2 separate regions of the Homo sapiens genome follow, and region 2 is linked to region 1. Evidence: fine-mapped expression QTL. A gene starts in region 1. The other region holds a variant in brackets. All regions are shown on one strand. Distances are between the middles of the regions. Region 1 holds the start of ORC3 (origin recognition complex subunit 3). Region 2 has its middle 22 kb from the start of AKIRIN2.

The links. PIP is the estimated chance that this variant, and not a neighbour inherited with it, causes the effect.
Region 2: its variant is the best candidate, but not a certain one, in a credible set for the expression of ORC3 in whole blood (TOPMed, PIP 0.60).

The regions. Positions count from the first base shown.
Region 1 is chr6:87,587,647-87,592,005 of GRCh38, forward strand. ORC3 (origin recognition complex subunit 3) reads left to right here and starts at 2,489. Exons shown (of 20, transcript NM_012381.4): 1 at 2,489-2,546. The coding sequence starts at 2,523. It overlaps RARS2 (arginyl-tRNA synthetase 2, mitochondrial), which reads right to left and starts at 2,341. Exons shown (of 20, transcript NM_020320.5): 1 at 2,276-2,341. The coding sequence starts at 2,311. RefSeq lists enhancers at 1,471-2,432, 2,196-2,425, 3,806-4,306, 4,307-4,359.
Region 2 is chr6:87,722,104-87,726,498 of GRCh38, forward strand. No RefSeq gene overlaps it. Among named protein-coding and RNA genes, the nearest start is that of AKIRIN2, 22 kb to the left of the region's middle. RefSeq lists enhancers at 2,923-3,032, 3,723-3,782. The variant A/G (reference allele first, on the strand shown) is at 1,846.

The sequences.
Region 1 (4,359 bases):
TCAACTGACTCAATTATATAATAAGGTTAATACTTCTATATCACAGGGTTGCCATGAGCTTAAATGTGAATGTGTAGTAACTAGCACAAATATATACTCAATATATTAGTTCTTGTTTCTCCAACTTATCTTTTTCTTTTTTTTGAGACAGGGACTCACTTTGTCCCCCAGGCTGAAGTGCAGCGGTGCAATCAAAGCTTGCTAGTTTCAGCCACCTGGGCCCAAACGATCCTCCCACCTCAGCTTCCCAAGCAGCTGGGACCACAGGTGTGTGCCACTACACCTAAGTTTTGTTTTTTATTTCTTTATAGAGATGGGGGTCTCCCTATGTTGCCCAGGCTGGTCTTGAACGTCTCAGTTCAAGGGATCCTCCCACCTCGGCCTCTCAAAGTTCTGGGATTACAAGTGTGAGCCACCATGCCTGGTCCAATTTACAGTCTTTACAAAGAACACAGCCTTTGCAAAACTAAACACAATTTGTTTCTCATCATGGCACTATCTTTACTTAAGGGCTAAGAATGGAAAACGTCCACCCTTACACACAGCTTAGATACTAAGGTCCAAAACTACCTTCCCTGATATGGTTTACTGTCTACATTAACATGAATTTATTATTTTTTGTCTTCATTAGCATAACTTTACTGTTCTAGAAGACTTCTGCCCAAATAACTTAATCATTCATTATAAGAACTTCATGAGAAATCTATTAGCTTTTCACGTTTTTTATTTTTATTTTTTGTTTACAGGGTCTCGCTCTGTCACCCACCCTGGAGTGCAGTGGCACAATCATAGCTCACTGTAGCTTCAAACTCGTGGGTCCGTCCAAGTGATCCTCCAGACTCAGCCTTTCAAGCAGCTAGGACTACAGAGGTGCACCATCATGCCTGGCTACTTTTTAAAAAAAATTTTGTTGAGACGGGGTCTACCTATGTTGTCCACGCTGGTCTCGAACTCCTGGGCTCAAGCCATCCTCCCACCTTGGCCTCCCAAAGTGCTGGGATTATAGGCATGAACCACATGCCAGGCCTATTAGTTCTTCCAATAGAAAACCTCAATAGTTTATGCCTTAAGGCTTCTTGCACTCTTTGCTTTTCCTATCAATCTTAAACCGCTGTATCAGATCAGAGTCCAACCCTAATCAAGCCATCTTCCTCCAACACCCTCCTACCCTCTCCCTCTGAAAGACCAGCCTTAAGCCATACCCATCAGTAAAATCTGACCTTGCTTTCCCAGTTTAATACACTACCAAAGCTCTCAGTGGTGTTCTTCCTTATCCCAGTGAGCAATAAATTCAGCTGTCTTAACAAAATGTCATGTTGGTGATATTTGGCGAATTATCACCGGACAGGGCAGTACATCTATAAACATAAAGACAAGGCAGAGGGATTTCCCCACAAATGTCTAGAAATACTGTAAAAATGAGCCAAGATAAATTATACACCAGGCTAATTACGTCCACTAGTACATCCATTAATCAGAAGGAAATGGGTTAGCCAAGACCACAATAGAAAGTTTCCTTGCAAGGGTGGCCAATGAGTCTTAAAAATTCTTTTTGATTAATTCCACATTTATACTGCAATTTTGCCCAGCGCGGTGGCTCAGGCCTGTAATCCCGGCTCTTAGGGAAGCAGAGGAGGGAGGACAGCTTGAGCCCAGGAGTTTGAGGCCTGCCTGGGCAATACGGCGAGACCCCGTTCTCCACAAAAAGGAAAAACAAAACAAAGCAATTATATTGCAATTTTGTAAGCCCTTCCTCACAACAGAGCTGTTCAAATACGACCCTGAACCAAGAAAAACTGAGTCTCAGATAGCTCTTATATCTTTGGGCGTTACCAAAAACAATTCTAGGGTAGGCTGCCTAAGTGACTGCAAGAGAAATAAGCAGCTTTAAAATGAGGTCCTTCTGAAGAACAATCCAGATCCATCATCAATGTCACTAAAGTGTAAAGAACACTAACTTCTATGGGGTCTAATCATGGTCTAATGACTTGCCGCCACCCAGGTAAAGCATTCATAGCTGTGGGGTGGGAAGGAGAGAAGAAAGCACCAGGTACCTTTCAAAGTTTACTTTTCACCGAGACAAACTGATCCCAGCCGACGCTCCACAGGACTTCTGAAGCTCCACCAGCTCCAGAGAAGGGGGAGGAGGTGGTAGAAACTAACAGGATTCCGTGGGACCCACCCTCCAGCTGACTGAGGACTGGCCCGCAGCGGTGAAAGGCCTTTGGGGTCCCTAGCTCCTCAGGGACTCCTCTGCGCGCTCCGGGATCCATACCTGGCAAGCAATAGCGCGGCGAAAGCCGCACGCCATGTCCACCTCTACGGAAGTGCGCCGCAGTCCGCCAGTTCCGGCCTCGCCCCACCTCCTTATACGACCCGCCTCCCCGCGCCGGAAACCCGCCCCGGAGGGTGATGCCAGCCAATCAAGGAGCCGTGTGGCTCGCCACTAACCTCTGCCCTGCAGCCGCGAGGGCGCGCGGGAAATCCCGAGTGCATCTGGAATACGCAGAGTCAGTAAGACCATGGCTACGTCCTCGATGTCTAAGGTATGTGGTGGCCGATGCGCACTGTGGCTCTACCGCTGCCTCATTCCCCTTTGAAGAAGGGATGAAGCCGAGGTTACGTAGGCATCCCTTCCCTGGCTGGAGAGGAGGGAGGGAGCGGCGTACTGAGCTGAGGCGTCCTTGCTCCAGATCAGTTGAGGCCAACTTTGCTTGGGGAGCGAGGACGCGGATCTGCCTTGTGGTATGGCTAGGAGGATTTTTAAGTTCTGGTTGGTGGAGGTCGGATGTCCTGATGATGTGGCCCAGTCTCTCATTTTTCCATCTCACAAATACTGTGCGCCAAGCACTCCGTTAGGTACCAAGATGCAGTGGTAAACAAAACAGATTCAGTTTCTGCAGTCAAGAAAGTCGGTAAACATAGATAAACTGACGATCACAAATTTTAAGTGTTAGCAAGGAAAAGAGTTCTAGGCAGACAACAGAAGAGTGGGAAGAACCTAATATAGGTTGTCGGGGGTTAGCGGAGGCTTTTTGGAGAAAGTGACCCTTTCGCTGAGACCTGAAAAATGAGTAGAAGTTAGGTTAAGGATTAGGGCGAGGAGGGCAGAGAGAACAGCATGTTTCTTCGGCCCAGAAGATAGAAATAAAATGGCATATTAGAGGAATTTAAAAATCATAATCAGAAAGTAGACAAAGAGTGGGAGCGTCATGAAAAATGAGAATGAAAAAGTAATGTGGATGCGGGTGTGTGTGGTGGGATATCTTATAGACCTCCTCATGTTGGCTACCTAGATGGCAAGAAATTGCAAGACATAGTGTAGTTGGTAAGAAGATAAGCCCTAGAGCTGTATTGTCCAATGTGTTAGTCACTCACCACATGTGGCTATTTAAATTTGAGTTAAAATAAAGTAAGATTAAATAAAAATTCAGTTTCTCCGTTGCACTAACCACATTTCAAGTGCTCAATCATCACATGTGGCTGCAGCTACCATTTTAGATAGTGCAGATATAGGACATTTCTATCATTACAGAAAGTTCTGTTGGACAGCGCTGTTCTGGACCACAAAAAGTAAGACCTTGAGTTCTATTGTAAGTGCAGCGGGAAGCCCCTGAAGTTAAGCTGTCTGAGAAAGCTGAAAAATGCACATGAAGAAGCTACATTCTCCCTATGTTAAAACAATGGATTGATGAAGAAGGCTATGTCATGGATCTGATTTTTTATTTTGATTAAAACGGTTTATGAGAAGCAGTGCTTTTAAAGACTACATCTCAAGGAAAAAGGACAAGCCCTGGGGTTTAAGGTTATGCTAGTAGAGATTCAAAGGTAGTATTTTTATTAGAAATGGTACTGGTTTTATTTTGTCCTGGTTATAATGTTCTGTAGGTTTTGAATGGTCTATCCCTTAATCCTGTTGATTGCATAAGCACCTCTTATTTTTATGTATCTTGCAGAAAGTAAGATTTTTCAGGAAAGCATTTTTGGTATTATAACAAATGTCTGTATTGGGATGAGACCTTACATGAATAAGAAGCTTTAAGAACTATTTCATGAATTTATGGAACTGCAAGCTTTTTTTCTTTTTCTTTTCTTTTTTTTCTTGAGACAGAGTCTTGCTCTGTTACCAGGCTGGAGTGCAGTGGCGCGATCTCGGCTCACTGCAACCTCCACCTCCCCGATTCAAGCTATTCTCCCACCTCAGCCTCCCGGGCAGTTGGGATTACAGACATGCCCCACTACACCCAGCTAATTTTGTATTTTTAGAAGAGACAGGGTTTCACCATGTTGGCCAGGCGGGTCTCGAACTCCTGACCTCGAGTGATCCGCCAGCCTCGGCCTCCCAAAGTGCTAGGATTA
Region 2 (4,395 bases), 130 kb after region 1:
TTCCAGCAATTGTCCTGCCTCAGCCTCCTGGGTAGCTGGGACTACAGGCACGTGCCACCACACCTGGTTAGTTTTTGTATTTTTAGTAGAGACAGGGTTTCACCATGTTGGCCAGGCTCGAACTCCTGACCTCGTGATCCACGCTCCCCACCCCTCCTCCACCGCCAAAGTGCTTGGATTACAGACGTGAGCCACCACATCCAGCCGGATGCCCAGATTTTTAAAAGAAACTTGAGTAGGTTGAGAAATTAAGATCCTCACCAGGATAATTGTTACTTTTCTAAGTGTTTCCCTTTGGATCCTTCCTTTCTTCATAGGAACATACTAAACGTTCAATGCCACAATGGATTTCAATGGGGAAAAACTAATCTTGCTTTGTAGACAACTTTACAGGAATGCCTCAGTTTCATACACTGCAGGATAGTTGTATTAATTTGGCATAGATAGAAATTTCAATTAACATAGTCTTTTTTCTTTATTTGCAGCAGTTCACCAACAATGCATTTTAGAGCATTGCTCACCCTCAGCATTAGAACTGAGTGAATCTTCTGTTGAAATGGAGGCATCTATTCACCACATTACTTTTTCAAGCCTCTAACACCTTAACAGGCAAACCTCAGAGGAAGGTCTGCTTTCCTCTTCCTTTAGAAATCCCCCCTAAGCAAGAAACATTTGCTGAATGCCTAGCTGGGGACTTCAACATTGTTAGCACATGTGAGCAGCCTTCCAAAACTGTTTACAGTAATGGTAACGTTGGTAATAATACACCATTGGACTTACTGCAAAGACAATTTTTTCAATGTTTGTTCATATAAAACCTGCCAAATTGTCGATATTAGAGTTGGTCATTCCTTACATTATGAGATTCCTAAAATGAAAATAGCAGTAATAGATCCTGAGAGCTGTGAGGTCATTTTGTTCAGTTTACATATTAAGGACATGAGTCTTTGGAAGATTAGGAAAGTTGTCTATAGTTTCATGACTACGAAATGGCAGATTTTTTTTTTCCAAACCCCATGCATTTTTTTTTAATCACAACCGTGCATGCCTCTCTCAGCCCCATATCTGCCCCAGAGATGTCAAACATTCCCTCCTCCCTACCCATATACTGCCTTGGAGACTCTACCCCGCTCCTAACTTGGAAGAGAGAGTACTACCTGCCATGTGACTGTGCCCCATCAGTCTCAGTTACTGACCCAGGAGTAGACATCTGACTCAAACTGGGTTGATCGAATTCTCTCCCAGGAATTTGGAATAGGGACAAAGAGGCTGAGTCATTTAGCTGTGTGGAGCCAAGCTGCAAGGTCATGCCCAGCTGGCCTGCCACAGCAGGCCAAAACCTCATGCTAGCCACAGTGAAGGGAAGCTGAGAAACCATGAGTCAGCAGAAAAAGCTCATCTGCAAACAAAAGAGCACAAAGATGGGGCCGACTGATACTCAGAGTCAAATAGAGAGGCCATGTACCTCAAAAGGCAGAGGAGAGAGAGAGAGAGAAATAAAATCTGCATAATCCCCTTCTTGGCCCTATAATGCCCAGCAGCTGTATCTCCAGCGCTGGCTTACTGTGACCCCCATAATAACCTCTGCCTTTCAATCAACCCTCTTTTTATTTGAGTTAGTGGAATTCTGTTCCTTGCATGCAAATTCTTCCTAAGACACTTCACAATTCATATTGAATATATTTTGGGGTAGAAAGACTATTCTGCTCTTTATGACGATTATGGAAATTGAGGTTTTATCTCAAAACCCACAACAGGCTGAGCAGCTTTCGGCATTCTCGCCACTAATTATCCAGACTCCGGAGACTGAGCTTTCAAGGTGAGTGGTTTTCAGAACTGCAAATG[A/G]GAGCCAGCCCCATTCTGGGTCTCTTTCCCCAAGGATATCTTAGAGATATTCAGTTCAGGAAGAGAGGTCTTATTGTAGTATGTAGTTGCCATCTTGGGAACATATGTCAGGACTTCCTAAAGTCTTTCTGCTTAAAGTTTCCAAGAAAGTATGGAGCCTGATTTCTCATAAAGCCACTTTTCCTTTAAAGGTACTTGTGGAATCTCTATAGGCCCAAGGTTGACATGACCATATCCGTGAAAAGCTCAGGTACTATTTCTGTGCTAATCTCTTTAGAATAACAGAAAGAATTTATTTTAAAAATTCTACTTATCTTTCTCAAATTATTAGAGCTAATCCTAGTATAAAATAATGGAGAAATAGTTGAGTAAATTAGAGTGCATCAGCTGGTGGAATACTATGCAGATGTTAAAAGGGATAATTAACAAGATTAAACAACATGAAAAGACGTTTTTGATTCAATGAATGAGGAAAAAGGTAGAATACGAAATTGTAAGTATCAACCTTATAAGTATCAACCATGTGAAAATGGGTTTACATAAGGACATTTTTCTTGGTGGTCTTTTTTTTTTTTTTTTTGAGACAGAGTTTCGCTCTTGTTGCCCAGGCTGGAGTCTGGAGTGCAATGGCGTGATCTCCGCTCACCACAACCTCCACCTCCTGGGTTCAAGCGATTCTCCTGCTTCAGCCTCCTGAGTAGCTGGGATTACAGGCATGCGCCATCACACCCAGCTAATTTTGTATTTTTAGTAGAGACGGGGTTTCTCCATTTTGTCAGGCTGGTCTCAAACTCCCGACCTCAGGTGATCTGCCCGCCTCGGCGTCCCAAAATGCTGGGATTACAGGCGTAAGCCACCACACCCAGCCTCTTGGTAGTCTTTAACAAGGTAACTGAGGTTGCCACAACCATAGATCTTGGTACGTAAGATAAAATCTATTGAGCATTTCTGCCTTAGAGGATTTTGGCTAAGGTAATGTCACTGTCCTAGTTCAGTTCCAGAATTTGTTCCTATATTGTCCAGATTCTGTGCCTTTTGCTGATCTACTTCTGTGCTGGTCCATAGCACTCTCAACTGATGGGACCCACTGATTATAGAGTTCTCAGTCTCTCTGTCTGCAGTTACTTAAACTCTGGTATGGAGATCTTTTGCTTTGCACCACACAAATGTTAAGAACTACATTTAAATTGCTTTCATTTTTTTTCTGCCTACTCTTTTCCAAATCTGTGTCAAGGTGGAGATATGACTGTCCTCCAGTGTGCTAATAATGTCTGCAAAGCTTCTGGGAATACCTGCCAAAGCCAAGGTGTGAGGGAGAGACCTTGAATCTCTCCTTGCATTTGGTGGGAAAAAAACAATTTATAGATTGAGTGCCTCCTGCAAGACTTTTTTTTTGTTACAGAAAAATCCTTTTATGGCTGTTTTCTGTTCCAATCATGAACAGAAGTCTCCTTGCAAACAGAGGCCTCCTGCTGCTTTTCAAGGGTTTGGTGGCCTAATCATTTTGTGCCTGCCCTAGCAGACACTTTTTATGTTTGTGGCTTCTTATCATCTCTTAAAAGCCCTTCCAATATCAAGGGAATTTCTATATTTTGAGTTCTGTTTTTCAAGGTGAAACTAGAACTCTCTATTCTAGTCTTATTTGCGGCCAAGATGCAAGCATGTGACCTAGTTTCTGCAATCAGATGTAGCCATGCAACACTGAATGCAGAAGAAAAAACCATGAGAAAGCAGGTGTCATGCAGAATCTGTTTTCTGGTGAAGCTATGGAGCTTGCCAGTGGCACAGAAATGGCCCAGCACCAGTGTTGGTATCCCCAGCAGAGAGTTAGTGCAGCCACAGTGCCAACGCCAGCGGCGTTCTCTTCTATAACAGTCCAGCAGTATGATTTGGATATAACTTCCTGCCAAGTAGCCCAGAACATGATTCTCTGGCCCTTCCAGACAGTCTATGTGCTATCTAATACCCTTTAATACTTTCAATTTATTTTATTTTCCTTCTTTTTTTTTTTTTTGAGACGGAGTCTCACTCCGTCACCCAGGTTGGAGTACAGTGGCGTGATGTCAGCTCACTGCAACTTCTGCCTCTCTGGTTCAAGTGATTCTCCTGCCTTGGGCTCCTGAGTAGCTAGGACTACAGGCACAAGCCACCACGCCCAGCTTATTTTTTGTATTTGTAGTAGAGATGGGGTTTCACCATGTTGACCGGGCTGGTTTTGAACTCCTGACCTCAGATGATCCGCCCACCTCGGCCTCCCAAAGTGCTGGGATTACAGGCGTGAGCCACCACGCCCGGTTCATTTTATTTTTAAACTAGCAAGAGTGGATTCTGTTGTTTGCAACCAAAAATCTTTTTTTTTTTTTTTGAGACAGAGTCTCTCTCTGTCACCCAGGCTGGAGGGCAGTGGTGCGATCCTGGCTCACTGCAGCCTCTGCCTCACGGGTTCAAGCGATTATCCTGCTTCAGGCTCCTGAGTAGCTGGGACCACAGGTGCACACCACCACACCAGGCTAATTTTTTTATTTTTAGTAGATACTGGGTTTCACCATG